Regions from separate parts of the Homo sapiens genome. Here region 2 is linked to region 1. Evidence: fine-mapped expression QTL. Tissue or cell type: testis. Region 1 holds a variant in brackets; the other region holds the start of a gene. All regions are shown on one strand. Distances are from middle to middle.

Region 1 (2,764 bases):
GAAATGGTTTTGGGGAGCACATAGCACTTCTGTGTCACAACTTGTGTCTGGATGCATTTTAGCCGTTCCTGGGGAAAGAAAGAAACAAACAAAAAAATAAACAACAACATAAAACCTGCTTTTAAAGAATATTTATTCTATGGAAAGTTATTAAAAACTATGTCACAACCTTCTTAATTAGCTCTTTTCTAGTTAATTTGATATTTTAAAAAATTATTTTCAGTTCATTTACATCTATAGAAGAGTTACAGAAATAGCACAGAGAGTTATTGTACATCCTGTACCCAGCTTCCTCTAATGTTTAAATCTTACATAACCATAGTACACATAGAAAAAAACTAAGAAATTAACATCGGCACAATGTTATTATAGATTTCACCACATATTTTTGACTTACGTCTTTTCTTCTGTTCCAGGTATTTCTATCTACTTTTAACTCACACATACACACACACACACATGAACACATCCCTAAGGCTTTATTTCTTCTTTGAGTTTCCTAATTTCTAGAGTAAAAGACATTTTTCCATTCTCATAAGTAATCATTATTCAAATATCATTGGTTTTCCAAAAGTGAAATCTTACATAGACTATAACCATTGCCAGGAGTGTGGCAGTCATCAGAGGAAAGATGCTAACACATGGTAATAATGATAAGAATAACGACATAATTGAGGTCTACTGAGCTGTTACTACATCTGGCAAGTGCTAGTATGACTCACTTAATTCTTGAAGAAGTTGTATGAGAAACAAATTATTTTAACCCTCTTTTCCTGGTAAGGAAACTGAGGCTCCAAGAAGTTACACAATTCATCGGTCCCACAGCTAGTGAGGAAAGAGCCTAGGTTCACTTCAGTCCATTTTAACCACAAAACTTCAAGGGAAAACTGAAACTAATAAGGACAAAAGCATATCCAAGGCATTTCTGGATGGGGTTATATCCAAGCATTCACAAGAAGTATCCATTAGAAGGAGCATTTAGAGGTAGGTTTTTGAGGACAAAAAGAACAAAAAATGAGCCTAATGATTTAACTTTTTGCCTTTATTCCTAGTAGTTCAGCATTTACCTAGGACAACAATCCTTCTTCCCTCTCAGTTGTCAGGGGTCACATAGGAATTAAACTGGTTGCAAGAGCAAGAGCTGAGGTTCTGAGCCTTGGTACTTTCTGAACTTAGCATTTCCGACCTTGAGTCATGTTTGCCACCTGTGGCCCTTTCTGATCTTTGCAAATCCGATTTCTCTAGTCAGCCTAGTTTTGAGACCTAATTACTTGGCATTTCACCTCTGACGGTCTCTGCGCAGGCCTGAATGTTAAGCCCTGTGATTCTAGCAATAAGATGCCCCTGTGTCTGCCAGTGAGTCCAGGCTCCTTGCATGAGTACCATCTGAGATCCATCTTAGAAAAAATATATTCCATTAGTGCAATCATTCCCAAAATGTGAGCCTTGGGCTACCAACATCAGCATCACCTGGGAACTTGTCACAAATGCAGATCCTCAGGGTCTTCATGCCAGCCCTACTGAATCAGAAATTCTAGGCAACAGGGAA[C/T]ATCAATCTGTGTTTTAACAAACCCACTATGATTTTGATGGATGCTAAAATTTGAAATTCCTGAATTAGTATCTGTGTCTCCTCATTTGCTATGATGCCCATTGGTACAATGGATTAAGACAGGGAGGACTTAGTGTCTGACAGCTCAGCAACTTAGCTGGTTGCATGCCCCTGGGTCCTTGCTCAGCCTCTGTGCTTTTCCATTTTCTCATTTTTAAAAATACACCAAAGAGCTATAATCGAGCTCTCGTTTTTCTGTGTTTGCTGATGAGTAACTAATGGAGGGTTGTGCTATCCCATGTTAATCTTAACTGCCTGACTAATGCTTAGCAATGGCTTTTGTACAAAGGTTGTCCTTGTGATTTCTGAACCTCTTCTCCTGCTTGGATTTAAGCAGCAATATCCCATCACATTTGTATTACATAAATCATTGGGGCATGGGTTGAATGTTATATACTCATAACTATGTGTAATTAAACTTAATATGGATTTGACCATTAGTTAAACTCTCACGCTTTGAGATTAGCTATAATTGAGGAAGGCATGACCTTTATTCTAACAGGGTAGAACTTTCTCTTGGAGCATTTAAGGTTAAGGTATGAGAGGACTTTGCTGTTATACAAAAATATTCCACATAGGAAGTTCAAGTAAAATACTAAACCTTTCTAGGCCAGAGTTCTTTAAGAAATTAATCCAGATAAAACCATGAGATAGAGATAATTGCCACAGAAATTAGCAATCCTGCCAAAAGAACTGACCATGCATAGGCTGATCTTTTAGGAACACGGAAGGGACCTTAAAAATGTCACATGGAAACCACTCTTTGGGAGTTGTTTTTTGGATCAGAACAGAAATTAAGAAGCTAGATAGAAAAAATTCATGAAGATGAGTGTCTTAGTTTGAATTCCCCAGAAGCAGATTCTGAGTAAGAATTTTAGTGCAAGTGCTTTATTTGGGATGTGATCCCAGACAATACTAGCAGGAGGGGAGCAGAAATTGAGACAGGACAGAGAATGAAGGCAACACAGTGTGTATTATCAAGCAAGTTATCACTATCAGCAATTGAAGTGTAGGGTCAGAGTTTCTGAATACAAGTCTAGGATAGGCTCTGTGGCTTATCAACTCAGCCCTTGAAGAATTATACCACTTCTTTACGCATTACATCCTTCTTCAAAGAAATGAAGATAAAAATGCTCTCCAAATGGGATGATGCGG
Region 2 (2,613 bases), 560 kb before region 1:
CTCTGGTTGTGAAAGGCCACATGTTCCTGCAGGAGTTGAATTTAGGCTACCAGCAACTCTGTCCAGCACAAAGCTCAAAAGGCAGGACTACCACCTCTTACTTTGTTCTCTCTTCTTTCACTTACTTTCTGTTTTAATATTAACATCTACTTTGTTATGTGATTTTTTTTTGAGTAATTAAAATATTATCTATCTATCTTCTACCCAATATTTTTGTGTATGTATGGGGGGGTGGTGTTTTTGTGTGCTTCCTTTTATGTTTTGACAAAAAATAAATAGTACATATAATTCTTAGGTTCTGTGTCATGTATCTACCATTATGTAATGCTATGAAACGACCACAAATTATCAGCTGCATGCAACAATAAGCACTTACTACTCACAGTCCAGGGATGGTTGGTTGGAAATTTCTGCTGCTTTTGGCTAGGATCGTCTGATGGTCTGGGAGCTGAGTGGCTCTTGGCTGATCTAGGCTGGCCTCAGCTAGGATAACAAGGACATTCAACTTCTAGTCAGGTAGATTAGGAATTTCCTCATGGGATTGCAGAGACCAAAAAAAGGCAGAAGCACATTTTCAGTTCTCTGATACTCCTGCTAATATTGTTTGGGTTAAAATAAGTTGCATATCTGTGCTCAGAGTCAGGGGGTTGGAAGGTTATGCTGCTCATGTTGAGACAGCACTGAAAAGTGACATGGAAAAGAGCAAGGATATGTGTAGGTGTGTGAAGAATTGGAGCCATGTTTTGCAACCATTCGACCACAAGCGTTTAAAAAATATATATTCTATTACTCCATAAGAAAAAAAGAGGACGAGGGAGAGAAACATGAGGAGGATAGAAGTAACTGGTGAGAAATGAAGAAAATTAGGATTACATGATATTAATAATTGTTGAAGCCACCTAATGGGCACATTGAAATTTCACTATCCTGTGCTCTATACTTTCATGTGTTTGAAAATTTTTCACTATATAACAATAAAATGATATATAGTCTATGTTTGTTGGCTATAAAAGTCTTTATTCAGATATATTATGTCAAAGCTGTTATTTATTCAAATCTTTTATATTTCTAGTTATATTTTTCTACTTTTTAAAAAAATTTTTTAGGTAATTGTACTAAACTCTTCCACCATAATTGTGATCTCATCTTGGGATTTGCCAAAAAACATTTATAGCATGTCTGAGAAGTCCAGAGGAAGTATATATCTCCTCTTTGCTCCAACCTTCTTGTAGCAGGGTATGTGTTGAATCAGTCTGTCCTGAAATGTGTGAGTCTTTTAAAAAACTGAATACTATTGGTCATTTTTGTTTGGAGATTTCTAAGGCAAGAAGTTTGTCTAAGTACCCTAAACCAGCTGGGCACTGGGGGCCAGTGACAGGACTAGGAAAGAGATACTCATGTCCATTTCAAAGACTTTTGCCCTATGGAAGAGGCTTCTGTTAGCTTCTGTGACCTCTGGTGAGTTGATGCTGGCATTAGCCACTGGGCTGTCTTGCTGATAAATTGGCTAAATCATTAGACATATTCCCAGAAGGGAGTATATGGTGAATGGCTCATATGGGCCCCCGGGAAGGTGGCTGCACCTCTGAGGGTCCTTTGTGCTAAGGGAGCAGAAAAGGACCTCGCTCATGTGCTGGATAAACATATTTGTCACTGTTTTCATTATTTCCCTATGTATAGTTTTAAATTTTTCATTACAAAGTCATTTATTTAAAATAGTATGTATGCACTGGCAACCAATAATTTTCCCTTGGACACAGTCCTGTGGCAAGGATCCAATGTGATAACATATCAAGTTAACAGAATATTTTCAAAATACTCAAATTTGGTCTCATAAATTACTGAAAATATTCATATTCAGTATCATTGTTGTTGAATTAGATGTAGAAATAGGTGACAGTGGCCTTTTCCTATGCCCTGAAACCTCCTTTTGCCTTATTGCCACCTTTTGATGCGATGCTGAACAGGTTGACCTCTGAATCTTGAAGAGCCCTTTGTTTTCCCTCCTGATATCATGTTGGAATTTGGAAGAACAGTGGGTCTTTTGGTTCACTGCATTCCACTGGGACCCTTCCAACTCCAGCTCATTAGAAACACCCCCGAGCCTGAGGACTAACTATGATGTCATATGTCATAGCAATGAAGTAATTATGGCCGGCCAAGGCAAAGAACAATTTTATTTTTGCTGCTTTGAGAATTTTCTCATATTGCTTCAAATGTAACTCCCACCTTTCAAGTAAAAATTATTATAAGTAGATTCCCAGGGTCAAAAGAACAAGTGGAAACTTGTTGGATGGGGTCAACCTGGAAACTGCTGAGATATTTGTATACATATTCCCTTTATCTTGCTTTGGCTCAGTTTTTTTTTGTTCCTTTCAGGTGTGCCTAATATTATACTCTGTGTTTTGAAAGGTTTGAGGGAGAAGGCTGCAAGGAGTCCTGTGGGAGGCCCTGGGGTCTTATTAGTTGAAGGAAACAAATCATCATACCTTTAATACTGGCTCCAATTTGCCCCTTTCATGAGTAGTCTTGGAGAGATAATTGCTAATCTGGAATGGACATACTTCTGTAAGTTTATATCAAATACATTTTTTCCATTAAATAATATTTTTC

Evidence for each region. PIP is the estimated chance that this variant, and not a neighbour inherited with it, causes the effect.
Region 2: LINC02871 starts here. The variant in region 1 is fine-mapped to the expression of LINC02871 in testis (GTEx, PIP 0.98).

The regions. Positions count from the first base shown.
Region 1 is chr20:11,581,535-11,584,298 of GRCh38, forward strand. No RefSeq gene overlaps it. Among named protein-coding and RNA genes, the nearest start is that of LINC00687, 290 kb to the right of the region's middle. The variant C/T (reference allele first, on the strand shown) is at 1,550.
Region 2 is chr20:11,025,339-11,027,951 of GRCh38, forward strand. It overlaps LINC02871 (long intergenic non-protein coding RNA 2871), which reads left to right and starts at 1,206. Exons shown (of 4, transcript NR_146878.1): 1 at 1,206-1,236; 2 at 2,413-2,568.